Linked DNA regions of Homo sapiens: region 2 is linked to region 1. The links come from fine-mapping of genetic effects on gene expression. A gene starts in region 1. The other region holds a variant in brackets. All regions are shown on one strand. Distances are from middle to middle.

What was found. PIP is the estimated chance that this variant, and not a neighbour inherited with it, causes the effect. A credible set is the group of variants that fine-mapping cannot tell apart.
Region 2: its variant is the best candidate, but not a certain one, in a credible set for the expression of TMED5 in whole blood (TOPMed, PIP 0.81).

The regions. Positions count from the first base shown.
Region 1 is chr1:93,175,671-93,184,011 of GRCh38, reverse strand. TMED5 (transmembrane p24 trafficking protein 5) reads left to right here and starts at 3,599. Exons shown (of 4, transcript NM_016040.5): 1 at 3,599-3,958. The coding sequence starts at 3,770. CCDC18 (coiled-coil domain containing 18) reads right to left here and starts at 3,288. Exons shown (of 29, transcript NM_001378204.1): 1 at 3,160-3,288; 2 at 517-652; 3 at 1-34. The coding sequence starts at 650. RefSeq lists enhancers at 2,989-3,198, 4,069-4,218 and a silencer at 3,259-3,538.
Region 2 is chr1:93,208,947-93,217,287 of GRCh38, reverse strand. CCDC18 (coiled-coil domain containing 18) reads right to left here. Exons shown (of 29, transcript NM_001378204.1): 10 at 6,362-6,486; 11 at 5,027-5,187; 12 at 2,322-2,545; 13 at 542-652. Among named protein-coding and RNA genes, the nearest start is that of CCDC18, 32 kb to the right of the region's middle. The variant T/A (reference allele first, on the strand shown) is at 4,965.

The sequences.
Region 1 (8,341 bases):
AGGGGCATAATCAGAATTTTCACTTGGACTAACACTAGAGAAAAAAGAAAAAACATATTTCAGTTCTTGGATAGTTTATTCACTACAAATTGCTATACATTAAATAAGAAAATAGAAAACCTGAAATGCTGCTAAGCAGATTCACAGTTATGAACATAAGGCAATGTTTCCACTAAATTTTAAATAAATCATAATTACTTTTAAACTAGCAAACTGTATTTCTAAAGCCTCTACGCTAAGATTACTTAAGATTCAAAAAAATCATAAAAAATTAGTAAAGCCCAAAATATATATTTTATACTGAGTTCTAATACACTGAAAGTGTTTTTAATATGCAAAGAGGCTTCTCTAATATTCCTTATTTTTCCCTAAACTGAAAGTTACATTAAAAAGTATAAGAAAATTATTTCTTATTCCAGAGGCAGGTTAGAAACAATACATCATAATGAAATCCACACATTTTACATTGATGTATTTAAGGCACAGTGAATTCTATATGTGATTTTACTTACTTACCTGGATAACTCTTCCCCTAAACTCTGCAAACTCCATTCTGTTATCTTCAGTTCATGTCTTAAGGAAGCAACATTTGCAAGCAAACTTTCCTCTTCATTGTCTTTATTATAGTAGTCTGATGAACTAGATTCCATTTCTTAAAAAAAAAATGAATTTCTTGTACCTTGTCTGAAAGATTCTGTAGTTTCAGTCAAAATACTCACATGAATAGAATTTAACTCATTAGTTTTCTATTTTAAATGTTGTGAAATCTTTCATGGTGGTTTAAAACAAAACAAAAAATCAATAATAATGAATTTATCTGTAGTGTAAAGCCATAAAGGAATTCAATACAATTTCAATGAATGAATTTTTCATTTTAGCCAGGGTCTAGTTATTATAGTTCTCTTTTGTAAGCATACCTGATCTTCCTAACAATTGTTAATTATTTTCATTACATGTTAAGGAAACTAAGAATCAGACATTAAATAACTTGCTCAAAGTCACACAAACTGTAAATGGTGAAATCAAGATTTGAATCCAAGTCATTAGGATGCAAAGACCATTAAATTATGTCGCATTGTAGCTTTATTACATATTACATATCAATTTCAATATGAGGTGTTTGAACTTTCATAATTACATTACAAGTACTGGACATCTGATTAAATGGTATCATTACATTCATATTTTGTTAGAAGGGAATTTATTACCAGATAAAAGCTGTCTCCTCCTCCTACGCCCAATAGTTATAAAATTTTAAAAAGACACATTTACAAGTCACAACCACAGGGATCAAAATAACATTTGGCAGGTCAACTCATAGAAATGAAGAAAAGCTTTTGTTTCTTCAGTGGATGAGTATCTCTAGGGTTGTGAAACTACTAAATTTCTTTGCATATAAAAATCACAATAAAGCATCACATTTTATTATTGTAATTAATACAATAAAAAACTAAAGCTTTATAATCTCCACTACTACAGAGCTTTCTGCGCAATCTTAAAATTACATTCCTCTTTCAGATCCCATTTACCTTTTTCACTGTAGCATCTCCTTCAACGCCCTTCTTAGCATTCTGATCCCATCCCAAGTTCCAAAAGGTTAAAAGTCCTGTGCATTACGTTCAGGACCGCAATGTACTTAGAGAAGCTCAATATTTTGAATGAATTAACGAATACTAAACTGTCCTTCCTTCCCTCATCCAGTTAGAATGGTATGTTACATTTATTCCCCACTCAAAAATTCTCAGATGTAGGGAGGAAGATTAAAAAGAAAACTCCCACCTTATGGAAAGAAAGTGGCAGGAAATTAAATGAGATACTATGTAATCTTAATAGACAAACTGGTTCTATCCTCTTTCCCTTTTTTGTTTCCACAAATTTGCTTCTGCTTAAGTGACAAGACTCTCGCAGACAAGTCAATAAATCAGGTCCCCATCCTGCTTTACCTATTCAACATCTCTAGCTCTCTGTAGGATGGTGAAGGAGAAAAGGGTAGAGAAAATTGGGCAAATTCTATAATACCATTTGGTACTATATATTTCATCTTAAATCAGGTTTTAGTTCAACATCTGTGTATTGCCATGCAAGAAATAACTCCCAGTCCGGGCGCGGTGGCTCACGCCGGTAATCCCAGCACTTTGGGAGGTCAAGGCGGGTGGATCACGAGGTCAAAAGTTAAAGACCAACCTGGCCAAGATGGTGAAACCCCGTATCTACTAAAAATACAAAAAAATTAGCCGGGGGTGGTGGCGAGCGCCTGTAATCTCAGCTACTCGGGAGGCTGAGGCAGAGAATTGCTTGAACCTGGGAGGCGGAGGTTGCAGTGAGCCGAGATCGCGCCACTGCACTCCAGCCTGGGCGACAGAGTGAGACTCGGTCTCAAAAAAAAAAGAAAGAACTCCCTAACTCTTCTGCAGTAGCAATGAATATATTTGATACTAAAATGTTTTCATTTTCCTAGTGGGACATTTACTGTCAAATGAATGTCCTTAACTTCAATTTACAGTAGTTACCCAAAAAAGGCTATCTTCACTGACTATGCATACCTAGAAAAGCACATCATCCTACTCACCGACCTTAACAACATCATCTTTCGGCCCTAATTAACAATGTGTTTGTAGGTTTGCACACGCACACCCATCAAACGAAGGACAAGTGTTCTTTTATACCCTATGTATGTGATACAATGGGCTGTAGTCGAAAAAGATTCCTCATTTTGGAAAGAAGTCATAACTTTATGTAGTAGTCTCCTGTCTCAAGATCGCTTGACACAGCTAATCTTACATCCGTCTGAAAGAAGCGGGGGCGGGGGTGGGGGACGGAAGTGACAGTTTCCTCTTTTTTTTTTTTTTTTTAATTTTATAGAGACAGTGGCTCGCCATATTGCCAAGGCTGGCCTCGAACTCCTGGGCTCAAGCAATCCTTCCGCCTCGACATCCCAAAGTGCTGAGGTAACAGGCGTAAGCCACTGCGCCCGGCCTCCTATTTTTCATCAAATAAAATACAACCGTTCAGAGCAGCATGCTCAGCAACCACGAGGACCAGTCCCAGCGCATCCAAGGTGCCGGGAGGGAAAGGAACAGAACTCCCCCAGGTAAGCCGGTTTCCCCACGCCAAGGCGCAGTCGCTCACCACCCAAATCGTCGCTGGGGAGAGACCCACCCGGCGACTGCGCGCTTCGCACTCGAGTCTGCGTTAGGAAGCCTCTGACCCTTTCCCGGGCCCCTGCGCGTGGAAGCCTCGGACACAACTCGGAGAACCAGCGAACCCCGGCAGCACAGAATTCGAACCGCCGCGGGAGCCGTTGGGACGCGCCTACCCGGTCACTGCCCCGCCCCGGCGCAGACTGCGTGAGGCGCCGCCGAAGGCGCGGGGCTTGCCGGGGATCGTGGTCGGCGAGCGCGCCCGAGCCCACTAGCGGAGCCCGCCCGGGACTACATTTCCCACAATTACCGCCATGATGCCCATTGGTGGGGGAAGCCATGGGAACCGGAGGCCGTCAGGGGGAGAGGCGGGCGGCGCTCACGCCTGGCCTGAGGGGGCCGAGACTGAGGCGGTTGCGGAATAGGACTGCTAGCCCCGCCCAGAGTCCCTACCCTTTGGAGAACTGCGCTTCTCTTTCGGAGGGAGTGTTCGCCGCCGCCGCGGCCGCCACCTGGAGTTTCTTCAGACTCCAGATTTCCCTGTCAACCACGAGGAGTCCAGAGAGGAAACGCGGAGCGGAGACAACAGTACCTGACGCCTCTTTCAGCCCGGGATCGCCCCAGCAGGGATGGGCGACAAGATCTGGCTGCCCTTCCCCGTGCTCCTTCTGGCCGCTCTGCCTCCGGTGCTGCTGCCTGGGGCGGCCGGCTTCACACCTTCCCTCGATAGCGACTTCACCTTTACCCTTCCCGCCGGCCAGAAGGAGTGCTTCTACCAGCCCATGCCCCTGAAGGCCTCGCTGGAGATCGAGTACCAAGTAAGTGCGGAGGATAAACCAGCCTCCTTCCTTTAACCCAGCTGCACTGCGTTGTCGCCTCTCACCCGTTTAGAAACTTCTGGTGGACGGCCCTGGTGGTGAAGAGGCGAGGGCCGTTCAGGAAGCCAGCCCGCTCCGCGCAGGCGCGCGAGGCGAGGCGAGGCTCTCGCTGGGGCCGGGGACCCAGAACTTAGGCTGGACCTGGAATTGATGACTACCCGCCTTCTCCCCTTTCCTCCGGTGGGAAGGAGGCCAGAACTGGTGATGTCGCTGGCTTTTCTCTTTGTTTCCTAATTCGCCCACTGCTTTTCTTAGCCACTACACGCTCTCATACTGAGAATTTCACAATGCAGAACTGATACACGTTCTCCTTCATCATTGGACAAGGTGATGACACTTGTTTGAATCACCCCCACCCCTTTCACACAGTTCAGATGTTACAAATCACTGTCTTTGCTTCAGTTAAGGGTTTTTGGATTATGATCGTGTAATTGGCATTAAGCCCGATTTTGAAATTTTTTGGAAGACGCTGTTGCTATATTTAATGATACATTTCCGTTTAAGTTATATATCCATTATTTTCAAAAGATCAAATCGTATATTAAAACTTTATAACCTTTCTTTTCATTTTTTCATTGAGCATTGTAAGCATTTCCCTCGTGTCATTGTTTTTTTTTTTTTTTTTTGAGACGGAGTCTCGCTTTGTTGCTCAAGCTAGAGTTGGAGTGCAGTGGCGCTATCTCGGCTCATTGCAACCTCCGCCTCCCGGGTTCAAGCGATTCTCCTGCCTCAGCCTTCCGAGTAGCTGAGATTACAGACGTGCGCCACCATGCCCAGCTAATTTTTGTATTTTTAGTAGAGACGGGGTTTCACCATGTTGGCCAGGCTGGTCTCGAACTCCCGACCTCAGGCGATCCACCCGCCTCGGCCTCCCAAAGTGCTGGGATTACAGGCGTGAGCCACCATGCCTAGCATGTTTTCTTTTTAGTATCTGCATAATATTCTTGCTGGGAATTACCTTATTTTATGTAGTCATGGTGGTAGGGGGTAATTTCTTAGAAGAAATCTTGTTCGTTCCACAGCAAATTCCGATGTTTTCAGGTAGCAGTACAGGGGGGAAAGAAAAGGCATTGATGTGTTTCATCTTTCAGTTTTTTAGAAGTTAATTATAATCATCAAATGTTAATTTTTTAAGTTGATGTAGAGAATTGTTTTTAAATACCAGGTACTGTCACATACAGAGCAAAATAAAAAGTTGTAGAATTTTTTATACGATGGAACTTTAGGATTAAGTTGTATATAGATACACACGATAAGCACAGAGAATAAAATATCTAAAATCACATAGTGAGCAAAACTGAGGCTAAAACTCAGTGTTTCTTGATTTCCAGTAAAGTTCAAAAGTTCAACATTTACTGAACAGTTAACACGTGCCAGGAATTGTGCATGGAGGTGGGGGAGACGGAGGGGGAGCTGGGTTGTGCGGGATGTAGGTAAAAGAGAAAGAAAGAATCCCTCTTCTCAAAGAGCTTAATAAAGGTTACTGGCTCATAAACAGGTAATTTCAATAAAGGATGGCTAAGTACCAGTAGAGGAGGGTCACTTCTAAGGGTTTCAGAAGAGGATTCCTGGAGAAAATAAAATTTAATCCAGAAAGATGCTTAATTGAGACGAAAATGCCAGGAACAAGGGGCATTTCAGAAAAGCGAACAAAAAGATCCATAGTTCTTAAAATACATAGTGTAAGTGGGGATGGTTAGTGTGTAGTGGACACTACAAGTACTGAGTTTGTATTAGACTTTAAGACATATAAAGTCTAGGGTGGGAGTAGCAGAAAAGGACATCGGAGAGGCCAGAAGGCTGGGGTCATTAAGCATGAATCATAGCCTTGTTTGCCGTGCTGAGTAGGTTTTCCTTAATTTTGTACAAGTCCATTTAAGATTTAAGCAGATCACTGGATGCAGTGTGGAAAATGGATTTAAGGAGAGCAAAATTAGAGTCAAGGAAACTAACTAGAGGGCTAGTGAAATAGTCTAGATAAGAAAACAATTTGTATTAATAAAAAAATCTTCAGTATTTACACACATATTAGGGAAGATATCTATTTTAACTACTGTCCTCTTATAGTTAAGAGCACCAGCTCTTAACCTTAGCCTGGGTTCAAATCTTGACTCTGCCTACTTAAAACTTATGTGATCTTCTCACTTGTAAAATAGAGATAATAATTGTAACTACATCATAGAGTTGATTTGAAAAAGCATGAGTTAATAAATGCTCATATTCAGTGTAAAGTAGTCTATTAAAAAATGCTCATAGATCATCCCTGACACATAGTAAATAATCAATGAATGTTAATTTTACATTTATACCTCTATAGTTATGTAGCTGGCTTGGTTTAGCTTTATTCTTTACATCTTTAGTCACTCTTAAAGGGACTGTTCCTTTTTTTTTTTTTTTTTTTTTTTTTTTGAGACAGAGTCTCCCTCTGTCACTCTGTTACCCAGGCTGGAGTGCAGTGGCGCGACCTTGGCCCACAGCAACCTTCATCTCCCGAGTTCAAGTGATTCTCCCGCCTCAGCTTCCCGAGTAGCTGGATTACAGGCATGTGCCACCACACCCAGCTAATTTTTGTATTTTTAGTAGAGACGGGGTTTCACTATGTTGGCCAGACTGGTCCCAAACTCCTGATCTCAAGTGATCTGCCAGCCTCAGCCTCCAAAGTGCTGGGATTATAGGTGTGAGCCACCGCGCCCGGCTGGGACTATTCCTTTAAAACATTCTCCCTAAACAATTTGTTTTGATTAAGGAAAGAGGTAAAATCATTTGTCTGTAATCCTAGACAGTGTTGGTGAGATGTGTAGGGTAACTATCATCTTCCACCCTGTTTGTATTTCCCAACTTGTTTAATTTCCCAGTAACTACATCCTACTAATTTTTGTCTTAAAGTTAGTTTTTAAAATTTTATAGAACAATCTAGTTTTGTCCTTGGTTACTTATTGAAAATTTTACTAATTTCTTACTTTTTAGGTTTTAGGAGAATACTTTTTGGATAATTGACTAGCCTCACATTATATTGATAGAGGTTCTTGAAAACTTTAATGCCAATTCATGTATCTTATGACTAAAATAGATAATCCATTTAGAAATTTAAGTCATTCTTGCGTGCTTGATATGTGTCAGCACTATCCAAGTTGCTAGGGATACAATGGTGAGTGAAAATATCAGCTAGGTGCAGTGGCTCACACCTGTAATCCCAACAGTTTGGGAGGCCAAGGTGGGAGGATCACTCAAGCACAGGCGTTTCACACCAGCCTGGACAACATAGCAAGACCCCATCTCTACCAAAAATAAAGTTAGCCAGGCATGGTAGCACACACTTGTGGTTCCAGCTACTTGGGAGGCTGAGGTGGGAGGATCACTTGAGCCCAGGAGGTTGAGGCTATGGTGAGCTGTGATCACACCACTGTACTCCAGCCTCGGTGACAAGAGCGAGACCCTGCCTCAAAAAAATATATATATATATGTTTGTGTGTGTGTGTGTGTGTATAGTCTGTGCCCTCATACAATCAAGTATTAATTAATCAAATTATTACACAAATACATGTCAAAATATTTACTAGGGGTAATGAAGGTAAGTTCATAAGACTATGAGTGGGCTCAGTAGGAGGACTTCATTTTATCTGGAAATTGAAAGACATCCAGAAGTAGAGTTAAGATCTACAGAATTATCAGACTTTCACTAGGCATAATGGAATGAGTGGTACGAGACAATGGGTAAAAAAGAACAACAACGTGCCAAGATACTAAGGAAGAAGAGAGAAAGATACCTTTGAGGTCCTGAAAGATAGGATACAGAGAGAGAAAAGTGGTACAAGTCTACTTTAGAGAAGTCAGTAGCAACAGCAACCAAATCATTGTGGGCTTTTAGGTCCTTGTTAAGGATATGGGTCTTTTGCAGAGACCAGTAATACGCCACTGAATAGTTATAAGCAGGTTAACTCGATCTGTGTTTTTTAAAAGATCGTTTTGGCCACAAGGTATTGAGCCTCTCTGTACCAGTTTCTATACTTTAACAGTAATCACCTGCTCCCCACTATATATTATTGTGAAGAATAAATATGCTAATACATGTAAAAGGAATGGTATCTAGCACCAAATAAGCACTCAAAAAATGTTAGCTAGAAAATAAACCCTGAGCCTAGAACAACAATACTTTTTTAAGGGCATAATAGGCACTAAAAAGTATCTATTGAATGAGTGAACCAGACGTTTACCAAACATGTAAAACTATCTGGGTGAGTTTTTGGGAGAATATAGCTATATCAATTTTTAAAAATTTTTATTAGTCTTTCATTTTTGTATAGAGCCAAATTTCAATATTTT
Region 2 (8,341 bases), 33 kb before region 1:
CATATCAAAGAACTACCATTATCTTCAATCCTATTAGGATAAAAATGAGAAAACGGCCGGGTGCGGTGGCTCACGCCTGTAATCCCAACACTTTGGAAGGCTGAGGCGGGTGGATCACGAGGTCAGGAGATGAGACCATCCTGGCTAACACGGTGAAACCTGTCTCTACTGAAAATACAAAAAAAATTAGCCAGGCGTGGTGGCGGGCGCCTGTAGTCCCAGCTACTCGGGAGGCTGAGGCAGGAGAATGGCGTGAACCCAGGAGGCAGAGCTTGCAGTGAGCCGAGATCACACCACTGCACTCCAGCCTGGGCGACGGAGTGAGACTCTGTCTCAAAAAAAAAAAAAAAAAGAGAAAACTTGGATAACTTGCCATATAAGCCTATTAACTTAAAAATATAAACAAGAAATGATCAGAAGAGTTTAGTAGAATTTATACTTTCCTATATATTTTATAATAATGATGCTAAAACAAATGTGCTGTCACAAATTAAGTGCCTAAAAATCACAGTAAATTTGTAGGAACAAAGATAAGTTTTACCATAAGCTCCTGTTCTAGTTCTGCATTTTTTGCAGCAATAGAGGAATAAGCAACTATCTTTTCTTCCAGCTGTTTCTCAAGAGTTAAAAGTTGAGAACATTTCTTTGTCATCTGAAAACACATTGAAATAAATGTAAAATTATTTTTTAAAGGTAATGATTTTGCATTCTAAGATCAAACACCTGCTCCTCTTTCAAAGTTCAAATACATTGTGTCTAGGTAAATTGGGCAAACTTACAGTTATAAACATTTAGGATGCAAAGTGAATAACTTTTTAACCCACATAATTATAAGTATTTTACAAAATAAGTGACAATTAAGAAGAAAAACAAATACTGAAAACAAAGGATCACTTCTTCTATCTATGTAAAACATAAGTCATTTAATTCAGACCCCTATATCCAAAAAGGACAATACCCTAATCTATTTTTACGTAGCTGTTAAAGACTGAAATAAGTACAATAAAATGTTATCAGCAGTTATTTCTGGTGGTAGAATTATCAATGGTTCATTTTCTTCTTTTTCCCCTTTTATATTAACAAGACTGTGCTATTTTTGTAATTTAAAAAACTTATTAATCCCAGTATTTGGCAATTTCCTAAGTAAACTGGTAGCCATAGTTATAAACTGTCTAAATCTCCATCTTCATTATTAACATAAGTTCCTATCTTATAGTTCTTTTTCCTCAGCCTTGGCTATAGACTTTAAGCTGAGAAAGCAGGTATTTAAAAAGTGTACCTATAGATGACTGCAGCCTCTGGTTTGAAGATCGAGTATAAGATATACACATGTGGTCCTGGTCCACAATTACCTAATGAGGCACCCTTATCCTGTCCTCAGTGAAAATGAAGACAAGATATTCACAAAACACTCATTATCCCCTTTTCAGAATGTAATTCCTTGCGTAGTTGTTTCAGGTTTACATGCAGTTGTTTAAAAATACAGACTCTTTAAACAGCAGAAATACACAAAAAATAAAAATACAGATTCCGGCTAGGTGTGGTGGCTCACACCAGTAATCCCAGCATTTTGGGATACTGAGGTGGGGATCACCTGAAACCAGGAGTTCGAGGCAAGCCTGGGCAACACAGCGACTGTCTCTACAAATAAAAAATAAAAAAACTTAGCTGGACATAGTGACACATGCCTGCAGTCTCAAATACTTGGAAGACTGAGGCAGGAGAATGGCTTGAGCCTAGAAGTTCAAAGCTACAGTGAGCTATGATCACACCACCACACTCCAGACTGGGCAACAGAGCAAGACCCTGTCTCTAAGAAAAAAAAAAAAAAAGAAAAAGAAAAGAAAAAAGCAGACTCTTGTGCCCATATATACTGAATCAGAAATTGCTGGAACAGGACCCAGAAATATGCATATTAAACAGGCTTCCTAGGTGGTTTGGGGTTTGCTAAAATTTGAAATCCTTTATTATCACTCCTTTTCTTCCAACAGCATAATCCAAAGTCTTTATTTATAAATGTATATTAACCATATTAACTTATACTATGGAAGAAATAATAGGCTGCAATGCAATATTATTTCCACCAAATTTGAGACTTTTACCCACTACAGTTTTTCCTACTTTTAATAACTTTAACTTTTAATAAGTTAAAATACAAAGGTTTCCAAATATAATTTTAAAACAATTTATAACTTATGTGGTACCATTTTTTAAAAACTTTAAATCTGGATGTAAACATATAATTTTTATAAAACCCTAAAATAATACCTTTTGTTCTAGTTCAAAAATTAACATATATACCAAGCTAATTCCAAGCTTACTTCACTTTCCAGTTTGCTGGAGTTTGAAGCTTTCTCTAGCAGCTCCTCTTGAATCAGCTGAAACTGACTAGTTCTGTGAGCCATGTTAACCTTCAAATCAGAATTTTCAGCTTCTATTTGTATCAGCTTAGTACGTAGTTCTTCTATTCCAGTAACAAGTCTTTGCCTCTCTTTTTCATATTGCTTGTTCATAGTATGTTGATTTTGATCTTTTACGCTTTCTGCTAATAAACATAAAAGGAAAATTGTTCTGAATAGGACTTCAAGAATAAAAACCTACTTAAATAGTTGAAAGATTTAGTCATAAACAAAGTTTAGTTTCTGATCTAAAGAGTACTAAAAGGGACAGAGAATGAGACATTCATTAAGGAAATCAAAGAATAAGTAATGTGCTCTCTAAATTAAATACGTAACAAAGAGGAGAAAAGTTCTGAATCACTCATTTTTCTAGGTAGCTAAGACTATTCCTTTGTACCAGAAATGTAAGAATCCTTCTCCACCTTTTAAATTCCATTTTTTAATAGAAATCATTGTAAAAATTTTTTTTAAGTTGCCCTGTTTCCTTAAACTGAAGGTAATCATAAAATTTATTTGGACAGTTTGAGATCATTAAGAACATTTTTATGTACTGCACACAGAAGCAGGTTCAAAAGCTCCAAAGAGTGAATCCTTCCCGACCCCATCGTCTTTCTCTCCAAACTAGCTAATGAGAATTCAGTGATGCTTTAAAAAAAATTACTGAGGGTAGCCAGGCACAGTGGCACCTGTTATCTGAGCTATTCAACAGGCTGAGGTGTGAGGATCACTTGAGCCCAATTCAAGACCATCCTGGGCAACATGGCAAGATCCTGTCTCAAAAAAATTACTGAGGGTTATCAGAGGTAGTTACTTGACCATGCCCCTTCTCCACTATAAACATACACATCTCCCACTCCAAGGTAAGTAAGCCTTCAGAAGTGCTTTTAAAAAGCATAATGTAGATGATTACATGAGAACACACAGATGTGGAAACAAGATACACTTTGCCTTCAAGATTTGCATCAGTAGCCATTTCTCATAAATTCTCTACATCTATAATATTTCACTTTCTAGGCTATTTACTTTTTATTGGCTCTGTTCTTGATGTAAAAGAATCTATAACATATTATATTTATTACCACCTCTAATTACTAGTATTCTCAACTTGGAACATTCACCAAGATAGATCATACGCTGGACAATAAACCAAATCTCAAAACATTCTTAAAAATGAAGTCCTATACAGTATGTTCTCTGATCATCATGAATGACACAAAAATATCTGGAAAAACCTCCAAATATTTGGAAATAAAACACACACAGCCTATGAGTCAAAGAGGAAATCACAAGAGATAACTATTTTGAACTGAATGAAAATGAAAATACAACACATTAAAAAAAGTAGTGGAATACACCCAAAGCACCGCTTAAAGGGAAGTTTCTATCCTTAAATACTTAGATGAGAAAAGAAAAGAGGTCTAAAATCAATAATCTAAACTTTAAGAAAAGTTTTGTGGTTTTTTTGGAAAAAAAAAAAAAGAGAGAAAATTAAGCCTAAAAGTTAACTGGGAAAAAGTACAAAGGATCCTGGTGGAGATGTCTTATGTCTTGACTGTGGTGATGGTAACAAGAGTTAAACATTAAAACACAAACACCTGACAAAACGTATCAAACTGTATATTAAAATGGGTGCATCTTAACTGCAGGGGTCCCCAACCCCTGGGCCACGGACTGGTACCAGTCCATGGCCCATTAGGAACTGGGCCACATAGTAGGAGGTGAGTGGCAGGCGAATGAGCAAAGCTTCATCTGTAGTTACACCCACTCCCAATCGCTCGCATTACTGCTGGAGCTCTACCTCCTGTCAGATTAGCGGCAGCATTAGATTCCCACAGGAACACAAACCCTATTATGAACTGCACATGCGCAGGATCTAGACTGCTCACTCCTTATGAGAATCTAATGCCTGATGATCTGTCACTGTCTGCCATGACCCCCAGATGGAACCTTCTAGTTGCAGGAAAACAAGGTCAGGGCTACCACTGATTCTACATTACGATGAGTTGTATAATTATTTCAACATCAATATGATAATAATATAAATAAATTGCACAATAAATGTCATGCGTTTGAATCATCCTGAAACCAACCCTGACCCTGTCCCTGGTCCATGGAAAAAATGTCTTCCACAAAACCAGTCCCTGGTGCCAAAAAGGTTGGGGACCACTGTTCTATTGGATATCAATTTTACTTCATTAACGAATGATACAAAGTCTAATAATTCTGAAATAACTTTTGCTGTCTTATCAGACCACAACTAGTAACAGATTATCAAGTATGTTTGATAATAGAAACCAAACAGTTGATAAATTTGTTCTTTAAAAACTATCATCTGAGAACACATGGAAACATAGAGGGGAACAACACATACTGGGGTCTATCAGAGGGTGGAGGGTGGAAGGAGGGAGTAGATCAGGAAAAATAATTAAGGGGTACTAGGCTTAATACCTGGGTGATGAAATAATCTGTAAAACAAACCTCCATGACACAAGCTTACCTATGTAACAAATCTGCACATGTATCCCTGAACTTAAATTAAAAAAAAAATTTAAATAAAAGTTTTTT[T/A]AAAAAAAAACTATCATCCAAAACTCTGAATATAATTTATTAAAATAACTCAATATACTTACCTACTTGATGACCACCTAGCTTTACAGGTTCTGTTTCTAAACTACTTAATTTGCTACTTTCTTGGCTGTCATTACAAGTAATAAGACTCTGAGATAACTGATTTGCAGTCAGGTTTGCATGAAGCTTTTGAATTTCTGCCTCTTTTATTGCAAGCTTAATTCTGGCACAAAAGAAAAGAAGGGAAAAATTATTAGAAAGATTCTATAAAAAAACTCATACTGTACTATTTTTCACCTTTCAAGTTGATTTAAAAAATTAGAATTCTAATATTAGTCAACTCTTTAGGCAGGATATGAAAACTCCCATATACCACTGTAGAATTATAAATTGGTTCAGCCACTTTACAAACTTGATGGTATTTAGTAAAATTGAAAATGTACACACTGTATGACCCAGCAATTTCACTGTTAGGAATATATACTACAGAAACTCTCATATATATGTATAAGAAAACATGTACAAGGATGTCCTTTGCAGCACTGTTTGTAACAGAAAACAGAAACAAGATACCTATAAAGGAACAAATAAATTATGACACTGTTATAGGACAGAATCCTATACAGCTATTAAAAGTAATTACACAAATCCATTTGTTAATCTACTCTATCTCAATATGAATGAATTTTTTAAATACTGCTGAGTGAAAAAGCAAAATTGCACACAGTATACGGTACATATTTGTGTACATGTGTGTAAACATACAAAAATGAATAGAGAAATATATATCCAATTCATGATGGTGGATACTTAGGGGAAAAATGGGACTAGTCATAAGGATCAAAGGGCATTATTCATCCTGTAATGTTTTATTTTTTATTTGGAGAAACAGATTTAAAACAAATACCACAAATTTTAAGGAGAATCAATCCTGGTTAAGAAGATTCAATTCTTAGTTGTGGAATCACAGATACCTGTTATAATATTCTCTGAGCTTTTCTGTATATTTTTTAAATTCCTCAATTAAGGGTCTTTTTTTTTTTTTTTTAATGGAGTCTCACTCTGTTGCTCAGGCTGGAGTGCAGTGGCACTATCTCAGCTCACTGCAACCACCGCCTCCCGGGTTCAAGTGATTCTCCTGCCTCAGCCTCCCAAGTAGTGGGGATTACAGGCGCGTGCCACCACCATGCCTGGCTAATTTTTGTATTTTTAGTAGAGACGAGGTTTCACCATGTTGGTCAGGCTGGTCTCGAACTCCTGACCTCGTGATCCGCCTGCCTCAGCCTCCCAAAGTGTTGGGATTACAGGCATGAGCCACCATGCCCGGCCAATTAAGGGTCTTAATTACCAATAAAAAACATTCTATTTGCTATAACTGCAGAATCTGAAAATTGTACCTCAATTCCGAAATCACCAATTTATTTGCCTCACAGCAGCCAATGCAACGGTCTTCCTTGTTTGAGAAGCTACTCATCTGGTATTTAGAAAGATATGATTTAAAGCCAAATAATTCTCTTTTTAACTGCAAGTTTAAAAACAAACATATGTAAACTTATGTAAATGAGATGCATTTGCTTTTTTATTCAGAACTTCAAATTTTAAAAACTGTATGAATTTAATGGAAACAACTTAATGTCCATCAATAGGAGAATATATAAATACATTAAGAAATATTAAGATAATTGGAAAACTACAATAGTTAAAAGAAATAAACCTGAGTCACATAAATCAGTATGGATACATCTCATAACAATATTGAGTGAAAAACAAATTATAGTGGCAAACAGTATTTTCATAAAAACACTAAGCAACATATATATATTTCTAGATGCATCGATATGTGACAATATTTAAAACATGGACGAGAAGGATACACATGAATTTCAGAATAATTGCCATTTCTGAGGAGAGAGGAAGATAATTGGGATCTGACAAGGTACACAAAGAAGATTTACCTGTAAAATTTTATTCTAAAAAAACATAGAGTTGATAAGACAATATGTGTCCCAAATTTTACAAATAAGGTGCTACACTAGCATATGCACCTTTCTGTATGTTTGGATAATACAGAATTTTAAAAGACAGTTATAAAAAGGAGCAAGGTTAGCATTTAATGACTTCTACCTTCAAACTATAACCGAATCACACCTCCTAGAAGTAGAAAAAAATCACATTTTCTAATCGTGTCATTCTTAGCACTACAAGAAACAAACGATCAAGCATACATTACCACATTCGGAATCATATCTCAAATGATTCTTTTTTGAGAGACAGGGTCTCACTCTGTCACCCAGACTGGAGCTTATGATCATAGAGCTCACTGCAGCCTCGAACTCTTGGACTCAAGCAATCCTCCTACCTCAGCTTCTCGAGTAGCTAGGACCACAGGCATGCGCCACCATGCCCAGCTAATTTTTGCATTTTTGTAGAGACAGGGTCTCACTGTATTACCCAAGCTGGTCTTGAACTCTTGCTTCAAGAGTTCCTCTCACCTTGGCCTGCCAAAATGCTGGGATTACAAGCAGGAGCCACTGTGCCTGACCATATATGAAATAATTCTTGATACACAAATGAGAATGCCAAATTAAAATTGTTATCTGTATATGATTACTTTCTAATTTCAAAAGCAAACAGTACATTAAAAATCCAAGCAAATAAACAGCATCCTGGGAAAGCAGATATCAGAGGAGCTAAGATCTTATGTTCTAGTTTAAATTCTACTACTTACCAGTTGGGCAAGTTATTTACTTTCTTGGGTCTAGGTTTCTTCACCAATAAAATAGTATTGAATCAGATGATTTCTGAGATTTTTTTGGTTCATAATTCCACAGTTCATAACAGTTTAACATTGGTAAGTCTACCATCTAGTCTACCATACATTCATATCTGAAACCAACCATAATATATTTACCTATAGTTTCCCCTGATCTTTCCTTCATTTTACACCTATTGATTACAAATTCCTGAATAGGTTTACTTACCTTCTTCTTAATCTCATTTATATATATGGTCACAAATATTACTAAAAGAGAAAAGGTGGTAGACCATTATTATAAAAACATTTTAGGCCAGGCGTGGTGGCTCATGCCTGTAATCCCAGCATTTCGGGAGGCTAAGGCAGGCAGATCACCTGAGGTTGGGAGTTCGAGACCAGCCTGACCAACATGGAGAAACCCTGTCTCTACTAAAAATACAAAATTAGCTGGGCATGGTGGCACATGCCTGTAATCCCAGCTACTCAGGAGGCTGAGGCAGGAGAATCGCTTGAACCCAGGAGGCTGAGGTTGCAGTGCGCCAAGATCTCGCCATTGCACTCCAGCCTGGGCAACAAGAGTGAAACTTCGTTTCAAAAAAATAAAAGGCCGGGCATGGTGGCT